Regions from separate parts of the Homo sapiens genome. Here region 2 is linked to region 1. A link means that fine-mapping ties the variant in region 1 to the expression of a gene that starts in the linked region. Tissue or cell type: whole blood. Region 1 holds a variant in brackets; the other region holds the start of a gene. All regions are shown on one strand. Distances are from middle to middle.

What was found. PIP is the estimated chance that this variant, and not a neighbour inherited with it, causes the effect.
Region 2: RNF114 starts here. The variant in region 1 is fine-mapped to the expression of RNF114 in whole blood (TOPMed, PIP above 0.99).

The regions. Positions count from the first base shown.
Region 1 is chr20:49,897,726-49,905,828 of GRCh38, forward strand. It overlaps SPATA2 (spermatogenesis associated 2), which reads right to left. Exons shown (of 3, transcript NM_006038.4): 3 at 5,666-8,103. The coding sequence ends at 7,894. Among named protein-coding and RNA genes, the nearest start is that of SPATA2, 14 kb to the right of the region's middle. The variant G/A (reference allele first, on the strand shown) is at 3,992.
Region 2 is chr20:49,932,568-49,940,670 of GRCh38, forward strand. It overlaps RNF114 (ring finger protein 114), which reads left to right and starts at 3,830. Exons shown (of 6, transcript NM_018683.4): 1 at 3,830-3,985. The coding sequence starts at 3,846. It overlaps LOC124904976 (small nucleolar RNA U13), which reads right to left and starts at 7,833; the gene lies at 7,729-7,833. RefSeq lists silencers at 1,392-1,592, 3,031-3,110, 3,677-3,866, 4,325-4,619, 4,905-5,199 and 1 more and an enhancer at 3,479-4,084.

The DNA of each region.
Region 1 (8,103 bases):
AAAATTCATATGGGATCTCAAGGGACCCTGAATAGCCAAAACAATCTTTAAAAAGAACAAAGGTGGAGGCGTTACACTTCATGATTTCAAAGTATATTACAGAGCTACAGTAATCAAACTAGTGTGGTACTGGCATGAAAACAGGTATACACTCATAGACCAATGGAATGGAATAGAGAGCCCAAAAATAAACCCTCACATATATGGTCAAATGATGTTCGACAGGAGTACCAAAACCACTCAATGGGGAAAGGACTGTCTCTTCACCAGATAGTGTTGGGAAAACTGGACATTCATAAGGAAAGGAATGAAGTTAGACCCCTACCTTATTCTGTATACAAAAATTACCTCAAAATAGATAAAAGACCTAAATGTATGACCCAAAACTATAAAGACAACTTAAGGGGAAACTTCATGACATTGGATTTGGCAATGATTTCTTAGATATTATACCAAAAGCATAGGCAGTAAAAGCGAAAATAGACAAATGGGATTACATCAAACTTTTTTTTTTTTTTTTTTTTTTGAGACAGAGTCTTGCTCTGTTATCCAGGCTGGAGTGCAGTGGCGCAATCTTGGCTCACTGCAATCTTTGCCTCCTGGGTTCAAGCGATTCTCCTGCCTCAGCCTCCTGAGTAGCTGGGATTACAGGCATGCGCCACCACACCCAGCTAATTTTTGTATTTTTAGTAGAGATGGGGTTTCACCATGTTGGCCAGGCTGGCCTCAAACTCCTGACCTCAGGTGATCTGCCCACCTCAGCCTCCGAAAGTGCTAAGATTACAGGTGTGAGCCATCACGCCCAGCCGACTACATCAAACTTTTAAATTTTTGCACATCAAAAGAAATAACAGTATGAAAAAGATAACCTATGGAATGGGAGAAAATATTTGCAAATCATGTATCTGATAAGGGATCAATATCCAGACTATATAAAGAACTGCAAATAAAAAACAAAAAATTTACCCAATTAAAAAGTGGGCAAAGGGCTGGGCACAGTGGCTCATGCCTGTAGTCCCAGCACTTTAGGAGGCCGAGATAGGAGATAATTTGAGCCCAGGAGTTTGAGACAAGCCTGGGCAACATAGAGAGATCCCGTCTCTATTTTTAAAATAACAAAAATTAAAAGTGAGCAAAGGACTTGAATAGACATTTCTCCAAAGAAGATATATAAATGGCCGAAAAGCATATGAAAAGATGCTCAACATCACTAATCATTAGAGAAATATGAATCAAAACAATAAGATATCATCTCACCCCATTAGGAAGGCTGCTATAAAAACAAACAAACCCCAGAAAATAACAAGCGTTAGCAAAGAGGTGGAGAAATGGGGACTCCTGTGCTGCAGGTGGGAATATAAAATGGTACCGCTGGCCGGGTGTGGTGGCTCATGCCTGTAATCTCAGCACTTTGGGAGGCTGAGGCAGGTGGATCGCTTGAGTCCAGGAGTTTGAGACCAGCTTGTGCAATATGATGAAACCCCGTCTCTACTAAAAATACAAAAAAATTAGCCAGGCATGGTGGCGTGCCTCTGTCATCCCAGCTACTCCGGCGACTGAGGTGGGAGGATCACCTGAGCCTGGGAGGTCGAGGCTGCAGTGAGCTAAGATCATGCCAACTGTATTTTAGCCTGGGTAATCGGAGTCAGACTCTATCTCAAAAAAATAAAATATATTAAGTTCAGGTGTACAATAAGAAAATTAATTAAAATATAAATAAAAATGATAAAATGGGTACAGCTGCTATGGAAACAGTATGGAGACTCCTCAAAACATTAAAAATAGAACGCCGTATAGTCCTGCAGTTCCACTTGAACCGCCTCCTCCTCCTCACATAGGACCTGAAATATGTTACCAGTGGAGATTCGCATGTCTGAAAACCTGGACCTACTCCCATCCCTTAAGCTCACCCCTGCCTTAAGTGATTTCCTCTCATCTCTCATTTATGAAGCTGCAGCCTTGAATCATTCCCATAAGAAGTATTTATTTTTCTACTTTTGCACAATATGTGCAAATAAACAGTAGGAAATTGGAGGTAAACAGAGAGAACAACTACTCCCAGTGCTAAAACAACAAGCAGGCTGAAGTAAACATTTAGGCTCTGGCAAACTCTAAAGGACAAATAATCCAGTTTCCTCAACAAACACGTCGCAAGAAAAAAGTTAGATGTGAAGGTAATACTGTCTCAGCCTGTTCAGGCTGCAAAATACCACAGACTGGGTAGCTTTTATACAACAAAAATTTATTTATCTTAGTTCTGGAGGCTGAGAAGTCCAAGATTAAGGCACTGGTAGATTCAGTGTCTGGCAAGGGCCCAATTCCTGGTTCACAGACGGTCAGCTCGCTGGGTCTTCCTGTGCTGGGAGAACTCCATTCTCTTCAGCCCCTTGTAAGGGCACCCATCCCATTCGTGAAGGCCCCACCCACATGACCTAATCAGCTCCCAAAGTGCCCTCCTAATACAAGCACACTGGGGGGATTAGATTTCAACGTTTGTTTTTTCTTGGGGGGACATATGCAGTCCGTAGCAGGTATCATGTTTTAAAAGCCCTCGTCTCTTAGATAAACACTGAAAAATTCACAAATGAGACAGACATCTAGAATTTGCTTCAGAAGAGTTCAGGAGTAGGAAAGTGGATGGCAAGGGTAGAGACAAAACCAGATTGGCCACAAGTTGGTAACTAACTGTTCAATTGCTGAAGCTGGGATTCATTATACTAGTATCACTTTTTTGCTTTTTTTTTTTTTTTTTTTTTGAGACAGGGTCTCACTCTGCTGCCCACGCTGGACTGCACTGGTGCCATCACAGCTCAGTGAAGCCTGGAACTTCTGGCCTCAAGTGATCCTCCCACCTCAGCCTCCCAAGTAGCTGGGGACCAAAGGCATGTGCCACCATCCCAGCTAATTTTTTTTTAATGGGGTCTCACTATGTTGCCCAGATTAGGCTTCATGTCTTTTGTAAACAAAAAGGTTTTAAAAACAGACAAATTAGGCCGGGCGTGGTGGCTCACGCCTGTAATCCCAGCGCTTTGGGAGGCCGAGGCGGGTGGATCACGAGGTAAGGAGATCGAGACCATCCTGGCTAACATGGTGAAACCCCGTCTCTACTAAAAATACAAAAAATTAGCCGGGCGTGGTGGCAGGTGCCTGTAGTCCCAGCTACTCAGGAGGCTGAGGCAGGAGAATGGTGTGAACCCGGGAGGCAGAGCTTGCAGTGAGCCGAGATTGCGCCACTGCATTCCAGCCTGGGTGACAGAGCGAGACTCCGTCTCAAAGAAAAAAAAAAATAGACAAATTGGGGCTTAAGTGAGATAACAGTTTATTTTTCATATAACAGACCTAGAGGCAGGCAGCACGGGCAGGCCATGGGGGCAGCTTCCAGAGCATCAGGGCCAGCTGCTGTAGCTGCTGCCCACCCCTTCCTCGCTTGGCCCCCTCAGCTTCATAGAGCAGCTCCATCTCCAGCCATCACAGCCATTCCAGCCAGGAAGAAGGGCTGGGTGGGAAGGGCAAGCTCCCTTCCTTGAAGGCCATGCCCAGACACCACACAAAGCACCTCTCCATCCAGGGACCAGACAGTCATCTGACCACACGTGGCTGCAGGAAAGGCTAGGGAAGGCAATCTTTACTATAGGTGGCCACAGATTTGAAAACCGGGGCTTCTACTACCAAGGGGGAGGGGATGGAGACTGGGGTACGATTTGGTGTCTGCCACAGCTCTCATCCCTGAGATTGGTAATCTAGCATCCTAGGTGCCACAGATCGGCCAGCAGAGCTAATGCTGTCCAGCTGGTGGGCCCAATGAGGTTTAAATATGTTTGTCATTTACATGTACATGTAATGTACATGAAGCAATCTGCTCTGAAGTCTCTGTTCCCTTTTGGATGCGGAGCAAGCACCTGGCTTCCTTAGCTCTCCCAGGGTAGGTGTGCGTCTCCAGGAAACTGCTACCCCCGACAGCCAGGGTGGCAATGCCGTTTCCTATGCTATA[G/A]CTCAAAGCAATCCAGCACCTGAGCCTGGCTTTGGCCCAAGGCCTGGGTATTTGTTCAGCCAGCAAATGAAATGGAGAAACCTGTTCAGTGTCTGCCCTGACAGCTGAGCTGCCTGGTGGGAGCCCACACAGCAGCGTGGTCAGTGGGTGGGCACAGGCCTGCTGCTGCTGCCTTAAGATTTCTGCCATGTATTTTGCTTTTAAGTCAATCCTCACTTAAGAAAAAAACACCTTTTTTGTTTTGTTTTGTTTTTCCAAGATGGAGTTTCACTCCTGTCAACCCAGGCCGGAGTGCAATGGCACAATCTTGGCTCATTATAACCTCCGTCTCTCGGGTTCAGGCGATTCTCCTGCCTCAGCTTCCTAAGTAGCTGGGATTACAGGCACCCGCCACCATGCCCAGCTAATTTTTGTATTTTTAGTAGAGACGGGGTTTCACCATGTTGGCCAGGCTAGTCAACCTCCTAACCTCAGGTGATCCTCCTGCCTCGGCCTCCCAAAGTGCTGGGATTACAGGCGTGAGCCACCGCACCCGGCCCTTAAATTGATTTTTAAAGCAAACCTATCACTGTTACAATGGAAAAGTAGTATGGCCTGCCCTAGAAGGTAACAAAACCTGGCTAAGAGCCTGCCACACGCTGTGTCTGATGCCAGGTTTCTCTGTTAAAGACAAGGTAGCATCGAACTGACTCCCTCCTCAAGACAGTTAAATGGATGGAAAAAAATTCAAATGGAATTAACTTTTAAAAAACATCTTCCAATGTTATTAATGCCTCTTTGTCTCTACTAACAAGCATTTCTCCTGGATGATGCAGTCCCCTCTTTGGGAAACATCTGAACTCTGTGTACCGCCATTTCCCCATATGTAAGATGGAGATGGTAACAGTGCCTATTTAATAGGATGACTGAAGCTAGTAAGTAAGATCATGCACATAGTCTCAGGATACAAATGCCTGGCGGGAGGATCACTCGAGCCTAGGAGATTGAGACCAGCCTGGGCAATATAGTGAGACCCCACCTCTACAAAAAATTAAAATTAGCCAGACATAGTGGTGCCCACCTGTAGCTACTTGGGAGGCTGAGGTGGGAGGATCACTCAAGTCCAAGAGGTCCAGGCTACAGCTAGCCATGATCACACAACCGTACTCCAGACTGGGAAGTAACAGAGCCCGTCTTAAACTAAAAAAAAAAAACATGGCCGGGCGTAGTGGATCACACCTATAATCCCAGCACTTTGGGAGGCCGAGGCAGGCAGATCACGAGGACAGGAGATCGAGACCATCCTGGCTAATACAGTGAAATCCCGTCTCTACTAAAAATAACGAAAAATTAGCCAGGTGTGGTAGTCCCAGCTACTTGGGAGGCTGAGGCAGGAGAATGGCGTGAACCCAAGAGGCGGAACTTGCAGTGAGCTGACATAGCGCCACTGTGCTCCAGCCTGGGCGACAGAGCAAGACTCCGTCTCGAAAAAAAAAAAAATTTTTTTTACAAAAAATTAAAAAAATAAAAAGTGCCAGGCTCGCAGTATAGCACTCAAATGCTATTTGTCAGTTTCATGGAAGAGAAAATTTAAGTCTTGTCATTAAAAAACTAAATACAGCTTAAGGAAAAATAAACTCCCAAGTAACCAAACTTCAAAGCAGGGCCAGGGGACATAAAACCCCAAACACTTCATTTAACAATGGAAGACACTTTATTATTATTATTTTTAATCATCTCTCAACATTTCAACTCTTGGTAGAAATCAAATGTAAAACATCTGCATTTTTAAATTAGCATGTATTTAACTATCTCAATCACAGCAACCTCATCCAGTAAGATGCACACCTGGGAGCAGGGCTGTAGTATTTCGTATTCCAGTCTGTGACCACAGTGCGTCCGTGATGACAGGTACACTGGACTTTCCCTCCTAGGATGTGTTAGTCATTCCTGCTTTTGTCCATAGGGTAAGTTACGTGGCATCACGGTTGGTTAGAAAGAGTTAGTTACTGTAATGCTGGCGCAATCTGGAAATGGAAAACTAGAAAACTAGAGCTCTCAGGAGTGGGCCAGGCATTGCCGATTCTGAAATGTGAAAAGGAAGAACATCAAAGATGAATGCCCTGCTAGGCTGGTCTTAGTAATAAAGTTGGTTGAAATTCAGCTTAATATACACACTGTACATCTACATGTGATCTACCAGATAGATATATATATATATATATATATATATATATATATATATATATATATATATTAAAAAGAGAGCCATAGAAGATTTGGAAAACCTTAAAATCACTCAACTGAGTTGGAAGAACATCAGCAAATTCACAGTGGCCTCAGGATTCAGCCAGACTTAAACTTGCTCAAGAGCTGAATAACTTTCTCCCAGAAAAGCCCACTGCATATAAATCCCTTAACATTGTGTACATCACAAACAGTTATGGCTAAAATATAGTTAGTTCACAAGGAAGCGGCTTTATTTTCAAACTCTTGCCCCACTCCTGCTCTTGTACCCCCACAAGGAAAATCCAGGGGTTGGTAATTCACATGAGAAGCTGAAGGGGCCTTCAGGCTTGGAAGCGCTTAGGCTTAGCTGAGCATCTGAGGAGCCGTCTCTCTGATGGGCACATGCCGACTCCTGCCCACTTTTAGTGCAAAAAGATTGCAAATGTTGCAGATGAGTCCTGGAAACTGGTGAAGAGAAGAGGATTGAGATGGAGGGGCAGTAGGAATCCCAAATGATTTTCCTTCTGAAACGAGACTCAAGAAGTGTGAAGTGCAAGGTTCCTGCTCAGCAAGCTATAGGTCCGACAGGTGAGGTCCCTGAATTGTCATAGGTTAGCAGTCTGCAGACACACAGACCTCGACACCCGCGCTCACCCCCTAAGTGCACACTGGAGGTAGGTGTATAGATAGTTACTGCAGGGAAGACAGTGGCTCTCCACCAGCTCAAGAAAAGGAGGCTTCATGTCTGTTCCTCCCTGCCCCAAACTCTCCTCTCCCCTCGGGCCATAGTGAGTGGAGGATACAACACGAATGGGCGCGAGGCCCTCCCTTGGAAGACTAAAGAACCCAGGGCATTTAATAAATAGCTACATAATTCATTTTTTTAACCACGTTGAAACACACAGCAAGTTGAATATTTATTTAAAAATAAATCTCAAAAATATCTATTGACAGTACAGTAAGAGGGGCATGTGCAAACAACAGAAAGGGGGAAGTCAGTCCTGCTGTGGGAAGCCCACACATCAGTGTGTTGGAGCAAAGTTCACGAAGGCCATGGGCTGACTGAGCTGTGGTGTACGAAATGACATTCAGCTAATACTGGACTCGGTTCACCTTTGACACCTGGAGAGGTGGGGAAGCCAGGGGGTGGGGAGTCCAGCTGGGGATCCTTGTGTTTAGGAAGGGGGCGGCCAAGGGATGAGCCTTTGGGAGAGGCCCCGTGTGGCAGGAGGGCTCATTTCACAAGCCAACAGGCCTCTAGCTCGCCGCTCCAGGTGGATGTTTGGTGACCTGAAGGGCCCTTCCCAGTCCAAGTTGGCTTTGCAATGGGAGGGGTAGGTGCAGCGAGGGTCCCAGAGACAGAAATCCTCTTTAAAGGAAAAAACAAAACAACAAAACAAAACAAAACAAAACCCCAAAAAAAGAACCAACTGAACAGGGAGTGGAGAGATTAGCAAAATGAATCTGAACGGAAGTGCCACCTTCTCCCTTGTCAGACAACAAAGCAGCCATTGGTTGAGATATCTGAGTCGCTAAGTGAACTCCCACGTGGACACAGCCAGCCCACGATCTCTGCCACCTACATGGTCAAGTGCAGGCCTCCGCCTCTGAGATCAATGCGTTAGTACTTCTTCACCGTGAAACCCGAAAGGTCGGTTGATGTAGCCCTTGGAGCTGGAAGGGGCGAGGCCGGTCTATCTGTACACGAGATGGGAGAGCTGGGTGGACTTGTAGTTCAGCTGGTTGTTGGGCATGAACTTGTGCAGCTCACTCTTTTTGTAGCAGGGGTCATAATGGTAAGCGCTGAGGCAGGCGTCACATGAGACTTTTGAACACTGGGTGCAGGTGTTGGTGGCGCCTGGGCGGTTGCAGAAGCCACAGCGGGAAGTGGGCGTGGTGGAGGG
Region 2 (8,103 bases), 35 kb after region 1:
GAGGGAAGGAACAAAGGAAGGAACGAAGGAAGGAAGGAAGGGAAGGAGGGAGGAAGGAAGGAAGGAAGGAAAAAAGGAAGGAAAAATTTAGGCTGGGCACAATGGCTCACGCCTGTAATCCCTAGCACTTTGGAGGCCGAGGTGGGCCGATCGTGAGGTCAGGAGATCGAGACCATCCTGGCTAACATGGTGAAACCCCGTCTCTACTAAAAATACAAAAAAAATTAGCCGGGCGTGGTGGTGGGCGCCTGTAGTCCCAGCTACTCAGGAGGTTGAGGCAGGAGAATGGCGTGAACCCAGGAGGCGGAGCTTGCAGTGAGCCGAGATTGTGCTACTGCACTCCAGCCTGGGCAACAGAGCGAGACTCTGTCTCAAAAAAAAAAAAAATTAATTTAAAAGAAATTTTTTTTGAGACTGAGTTTCACTCTTGTTGCCCAGGCTGGAGTCCAGTGGCTCGTTCTCCACTCACTGCAACCTCTGCCTCCTAGGTTCAAGCGATTCTCCTGCCTCAGCCTCCCAAGTAGCTGGGACTACAGGCATGCACCACCAGGCCCGGTTAATTTTTGTATTTTTAGTAGAAACAGGGTTTCACCATGTTGGTCAGGCTGGTCTTGAACTCCTAACCTCAGGTGATCCACCCGCCTCAGCCTCCTCCTGCTGAGATTACAGGCATGAGCCGCCATACCCAGCTTTTTTTTTTTTTTTTTTTAAAGAACATGATTCAACTGTATTGCTCTCTATAAGAAACTCACTTTATAGACTGGTTCTGAAAGGATGGAAAAAGATATTTCATGCAAATATCTTTTTGCGTGACCAAAGAAGAGGAGGGCTGGCAATACTAATATCAGAAAAATTACTTGTCCAGGCCGGGCACGGTAGCTCACACCTGTAATCCTAGCACTTTGGGAGGCCGAGGCGGGTGCATCACCTGAGGTCAGGAGTTTGAGACCAGCCTAAAAAATATGGTGAAATCCTGTCTCTACTAAAAATACAAAAATTAGCCAGGCGTGGTCGTGCATGCCTGTAGTCTCAGCTACTCAGGAGGCTGAAACAGGAGAATCACCTGAACCCAGGAGACAGAGGTTGCCGTGAGCTGAGATCACACCACTGCACTCCAGCCTGGACGACAGAGCAAGACCCTGTCTCAAAAAAAGAAAAAAGAAAAATTACTTGTCCAAAAGGTTACAAGAGATAAAGAAGGCATTGTATGTTAATAAAAAGTTCAATACAGCAAGAAGATATAACAATTATAAACATTTATATACCTAATAACAGACCATCAGAACATATGAAGCAAAAATTGGTAGAATTGAAGGAAGAAATAGACAATTCCACAATAATAGTTAGAGACTTCAATGCCCCACTCCCAAGAATAAATAGAACAAACAGGAGACAAGTAAGGAAATAAAGGACTTGAGCGACACAGTAAGACAACCAGGTCTAACACATGTACAGACACTCCCCAGCAACAACAGCATCCACATTCTTCTCAGGCACACATGGGATATCCTCCAGGATGGACCATATGTTAGGCCACAGATTAAGCCTCAAGAGATTTTAAAAGGTAGACATCAGCCAGCTGTGGTGGCTTAGGCCTGTAATCCCAGCACTTTGGGAGGCTGAGGCAGGAGGATTGCTCGTGCCCAGGAGTTTGCAACCAGCCTGGGCAACACAGCCAGACTTCATCTCTACAAAAAGAGACAGAAGAAAAGGAGAAAGAGAGAAAGATAAGAAGGAAAGAAAGAAGAAATAAAAGAGATCATACCAAATATCTTCTCCAAGCACAATTGGATAAGGCTAGAAATCAATATGGGGGGGTTAAAAAAAAAAAGAAATCAATATCAAAGGAAAACTGGAAAATTCACAAATTTGTGGAAATTTACACACTCTTAAAAGAACCAATGGATCAAAGAAGAAATCACAAGGGAAATTAGAAAATACTCAGAAACAGGCCAGGCTGGGTGGCTCACACCTGTAATCCCAGCATTTTGGGAGGCCGAGGTTGGCGGATCACTTGAGGTCAGGCGTTTGAGACCAGCCTGGCCAACATTGTGAAACCCTGTCTCTACTAAAAATACAAAAATTAGCCAGGCGTGGTGGCAGGCACCTGTAATCCCAGCTACTTGGGAGGCTGAGGCAAGGGAATTGCTTGAATCCAGGAGAGGGAGGCTGCAGCGAGCAGAGATTGCACCAATGCACTCCAGCCTGGGCGACAGAGTGAGACTCCATCTCAAAATAAATAAATTAATTAAATAAATAGAGAAAATATTGAGAAACAAATGAAAACAAAAACACAGCATGCCAAAATTTACTGGACACAGTGAAAGCAGTGCTCAGGGGAAATTTTATAGCTATAAGTGCTTCAAAATCATAGACAGAAAATTGCCAGGGCCTGGGGGTATGGGGATGGGAGGAGGGAAGAGGAAGTTATTGTTTAATGGGGACAGAATTTCAGTTTCAGTTTAGCAAGAAGACCAGAATTTTAGAGATAGCTGATGGTGATGATTGCACAATATGAAATGAATGTACTTTGTTGTTGGGGTTTTTTTGTTTTGTTTTGTTGTTGTTGTTGTTGTTTTTTGAGAGGGAGTCTCGCGCTGTCGCCCAGACTGGAGTGCAGTGGCAAGATCTTGGCTCACTGCAAGCTCCGCCTCCCAGGTTCAAGCCATTCTCCTGCCTCAGCCTCCCGAGTAGCTGGGACTACAGGCGCCCGCCACCACGCCCGGCTAATTTTTTGTATTTTTAGTAGAGACAGGGTTTCACCGTGTTAGCCAGGTTGTGTTTTTGTTTTTTTTTTTTTTTTTCAGACGGAGTTTCGTTCTTGTTGCCCAGGCTGGAGTTTAGTGACTGTTGGAGTGAGTGAGCCATCTTGGCCCACGGCAACCTTCGCCTCCCAGGTCAAAGGCTTTTCCTGCCTCAGCGTCCTGAGTAGCTGAGGCTACAGGCATGGGCAACCACGCCTGGCTAATTTTAGTATTGTTAGTAGAGACGGGGTTTCACCATGTTGGCCAGGCTGCTCTAGTACTCCTAGGCTCAAGCGATCCGCCCACCTCGGCCTCCCAAAGTGCTGAGATTACAGAAGTAAGCCACCTTGCCCAGCTCCTTTGTATAAATAAATGATATTGATTTTCTTCTTGCAGCTCAGGAATTAGATCTGTTATTAGAATTTGCTTAAATTTAAGAAATGGCTGGGTACTGTGGCTCACCGCTGTAATCCCAGCACTTCGGGTTGCCGAGGCAGGCGGATTGCTTGCGTCCAAGAGTTCGAGGCCAGCCTCGGCAACACAGTGAGACCCGCCCGCTCTCTGCACCACTCCTTCCCCCCCTCCTTTCCCCGTCTCTACAAAAAATACAAAAATAAATAAATTAGTCCGGCATGGTGGTGACTGCCTGTGGTCCAGCTACGCAGGAGGCTGAGGTGGGAGGATCGCTTGAACCCCGGTGGTCGAGGCTGCAGGGAGCCATGATCGCGCGCGCCACTGAACACCAGCCTGGGCGACAAAGCAAGACCTTGTCCCAAAATAGATTAAATAAATAAATAAATAAATTTAAGGAAAAAGCAACTTGATTCGAAGATAAATAGTGATAGTGCAAGTGGTGCCGAACTAACGATAAATTTGGAAAACAGCGGCCCACGCGCAGAGCCCGTCCCAATTCTGGCAGCCTTTGGATTTGGCTTCCACGTTTTCCAGATTTCCCTCGGCCTCTAGCTCGCTTGCGTCAGAGGGGCCCCGAGGGGCGGCCCACCCGCTAGCCCCGCCCCCAACCGCTCACCGCCCCGCGAGCCCCGCCCCCTCGGCCTCCTCCTCATCGGCCGCCGTTGCGCGGCGCAGAGCGGCAGCAAGATGGCGGCGCAACAGCGGGACTGCGGGGGTGCTGCGCAGCTGGCGGGGCCGGCGGCGGAGGCTGACCCCCTAGGACGCTTCACGTGTCCCGTGTGCTTAGAGGTGTACGAGAAGCCGGTACAGGTGCCCTGCGGACACGTGTAAGCGGCGAGCCCGGGCCTGGTCGGGGGGCGCTTAACTGGGAAGGGAATGGAGCCGAGGAGCGAGATGGGTCTCAGGGCGGGAGCCAGAGGACCCACCCAGAGGGGCCTCCCGGGGGTGTCCCCCGGGGCTCCTAAGGGCCGTGAAAGCTGCCGGGGCGCTCTTCTGTCCCGCCCCGCTCACTCCTAAGTATCCCGTTCCTCCGCCCGTCTTAGCGGGGCAGCTGCTGTCTGTTGAGCGCCTGCGATGTTCCAGGCGGCCTGTCAGTCTCCTTCCCACACGTGATAGTGGACTCGTGCCCTGCGGGGACTTTAGGCTCCGAAGTCCGCCCTTGGAGAGCCGACGTTTCCTTTCTAGTCCACGTCGCTCTTAAAGCATAGGACATTTGGCGTCGTGTCTAGCTGTGGCGAGTTATTCTACTGTGCACTAAAGTCGGGAGAAACGCTGAACTAGACTAAAACAACAAAAGGGAAGTCTTTATGGGGATCTGGCCAGTTTGCCCTTAGCTGTGAAAGGGGGGTGGGAGTTGGCAGATGGGATTGTTAGCATTCTACTTCCTGTGTAGGAGGTTTGTTTCTTTCAGTTTTCAATTAAGCCTTCATGACCTGAATATTGTGAATAGAGTGGTTATAATGATTAAAGCAGATATGTGTATAAATGTCCAGTCCAGGTCCTGGGCTGTGGCCGGGGCTTTCGAGGTTGGTCAGGTTGGTCGATTTGAATCTAAGCCTTGTTCCATCAGACGCACAAACACATCTGAGTTGAAAGAATTGTAGACAACGTGGCCACCTGCTTCTTGCCTCAGAATTGGCTTTTCCTCTGGCCCCTCTCAGTGCTTATCGTGGGATCACCTTGGCATTGGTCTTGGCAGCGGGCACAGTAGCCATTGCACTCCATGGGCATTATTCTATAGCCACCCTGCAGCGGGGGAGGGTTGGCAGCCATTTTACAGGTGAATACACTGAGGGTCCGAGGCTCTCTTAGGGAAGGGTCACCGTGGCCTAGCTCTTCCCAGATGTACTGCAGGTGACCATTTCAGTAGTCCAGAGAACAGTGCTTGGCACCTAGCTGGCTGCTTTTTGCTTCATCATGTTGCTTTAGGCTATTCATCTTTGCAATTCGGTTAGCCTGGAACTCTTCCCCCCACCCCTCCCTTTTCAGGCTTCAAGTCCCAGGTTAAGTTACCTCACCAAATACCATCCCCATCTAAATTACTTCCCCCACTTCCTTTCTGGGACTTAACTTCCTTCTCCTTGCTTGCACAGAGCAAAACTTAACAGCTCATGACGGAGTGGCCATATCTTTATTGCCCCTGAACTGACTGGAATGGCCTCTGTGTGCCAGATTTTGGGGTAGACTCTGCCTTCAGAGTTTACAGTCCAGTGAATTGATTATAAATAAGTACCAATGACTGGTCAAACTATTGTAAAAATTCATTCTGCAAGTGGGAGGGTATTTCAGGGATCACACCTCTGTGCGTGGGGTGAGTGATCAGGTAATGGTTGAATGAACTAATAAGTCGTGTAAGCAAGCTTCACGAGAGTTGAAGTGGTCTTTAGCTTTTTCATTGAATCCACTTATCCTTGGATCAGATTTACCTGATTTTGGATTAATTCAGTGGATTTCATTTACTATTAACATTTGTAAAAAGGCTAGACCCAGCACAGTTTGCTAAATGAAGAGCAGCAAAATTTGAGATTTTCTTGAGCTTGGTGAACCTTTCCTAGGTCAGAGGGCAAGGAACAGTACTGGTTTTCAAACCTTGGCTCTTCTCTATCCTCGCTGTCCTAGCCCCACGTGATCAGCAGTTCAGTGCAAATTGAAGACAGATGGAAGCACCTCTGTGAGGGCAGCCCAAATCCCCGCTAGCTCCAACCGACTGCTTTCTCCTGTGCCTAGTTGATTTTTACCTTTTGTGCTTGGAAAGTTGAGCATCACTGCAACTCTGGCTGGGGCATTGGATTTTTATAAAACTTTATTTCAAGCCCTGAATGACTGTGTTCTCCAATCTGGTAGAATACAGCTGGAGAAAGGCAGCTGGCTGGGTGCCCAAGAGAAGGGAATTTCTTCCTAGCACTGTGACGGAGTGGAGCATCGGAAGGCTGAACTAGAAAAGGGCGCATAAGTAGGAAATAGAAACTGAAAAGCCATCCCAGGATATTTGAGTTGTTCAAAAGCAGGCTGGTAGTTTGGGCATGTCTCAGGCACAAAGTGACTCGTGAACATTTGATAGATGAGCTGTACCTGTGTGTGTGCTTGAGAAGAGACTTCGAGCTGCTTTTATCTGCATGCTGGGTTTGGTTCCATTATACTCACTGGACCCTCTGTGCTCTCTTGGGTTCCTCTTGTCATCTGCCTTTGTGAACAGGCAACACAAGTGATGGCCACAGGCCCTGCCTGTCTCTACTGCCTCATCACTTGCCCTTCTCACCATGGTCTACCGCATCATGGCCCCCAAGGTCTGCCTGCCTTCCTTTCCAGTCCTCATTTGTGTGTGGCGTGATCTTGGTGTGGAGCTCTGCACCCAGATCTGTGTGGCTGTCCTCGTAATCAGGTCCCACCCAGCTCAAATGCCAACTCCTCAGAAGCAGCTTTCTATGATCACCCCAGCTGGTCTGTTTGCCATATTTCCTTCATATTTTTAATCACTATCTGAAATTAACATTTGTGTTTCCCTTCACTCTAGAATGTAAGCATCATGAGAACAGGGCTTTGTCAAGTTTCCATTGCCCTCAGTGGTGAATGAATAGACTCCCTCACCTTCTCTGTACCTGGTCTGGAATTTTGCCTAACAGCATTAACATCTAACTTAATGACAAGGAGGAAGGAGATTCTTAGAGGCAGTAGAAAATGGTCAAGTGTTCAGAAGATGGCCTTTCATTATATATCTTTAGTTCTTTCTGGCAGATTTGGTTATACTGTCTTAATCTATCAGGTTGGGTAAGTAGCCCAGGGTGTCTTCTCCATTCTTTCTGTATGCCTTATCTCAGCATTACCATCTTCCTAGGCTTCAGGATAGGAACTCGGTCATCTTTGACTTCTTTTCTTCAAAGTCAGTAAGTTATCAAGTCCTCCTGATTCTACCTTTCTGTGAATGGTTTCCTGAATTCATCCCCTGCTGCTTCAGTCAGACCCTCACAATCCTCTGCCTTTAGCCATCTGTTTGGTTTCTACTTTGTCTCTTCTCACCTTCTCACCTAAAAAAAAAAAAAACTATAGGGCTGGGCTCAGTGGCTCACACCTGTAATCCCAGCACTTTGGGAGGCCAAGACGGGTGGATCACCAGAGGTCAGGAGTTCGAGACCAGCCTGGCTAACGTGGTGAAACCCCGTCTCTACTAAAAATATAAAATTAGCTGGGTGTGGTCATGCGCGCCTGTAACCCCAGCCACTTGGGAGTCTGAAGCAGGAGAATCGCTTGGACCGGGGAGGCAGATTTTGCAGTGAGCCGAGATTGCACCATTGCACTTCAGCCTGGGCAACAGAGCACGACTCTGTCTCAAAAAAAAAAAAAAAAAAAAAAGTAACAAAACTTTGTTTTCCATGATAGCACAGAGATATTTTTCTGAAACCTGGATTTGGCCTTGTTTTGTTAATACCTTCCTTTTAAACTCCTGGCTCCCTACTGTTTATGAGGAAAAGTCTGTTAGATTTTTATTTCCTCAGATACATATCAATTTTAAGCCTAAATTAGGCCTAGAATAGTCTTCCCTTCCTCTGCTAGCTGACCTCTTTTTTTAAAATGCCAGAGGGGTAATGGGCCAACATCTGTAACAAGGTTCGAGGGTGGCACATCTCACACATGCACATGAACACCCAGTCCTCAGGTTCATGAACTACAAAAGGATCCATCTGAACCCTTTTTTTTTTTTTTTTGAGACGGAGTCTCGCTCTGTCTCCCAGGCTGGATGGAGTGCAGTGGCGCGATCTTGGCTCACTGCAAGCTCTGCGTCCTGGGTTCATGCCATTCTCCTGCCTAAGCCTCCCGAGTAGCTGGGACTACAGGCACCCGCCACCACTCCCAGCTAATTTTTGTATTTTTAGTAGAGACGGGGTTTCACTGTGTTAGCCAGGATGGTCTCGATCTCCTGACCTTGTGATCTGCCCGCCTCGGCCTC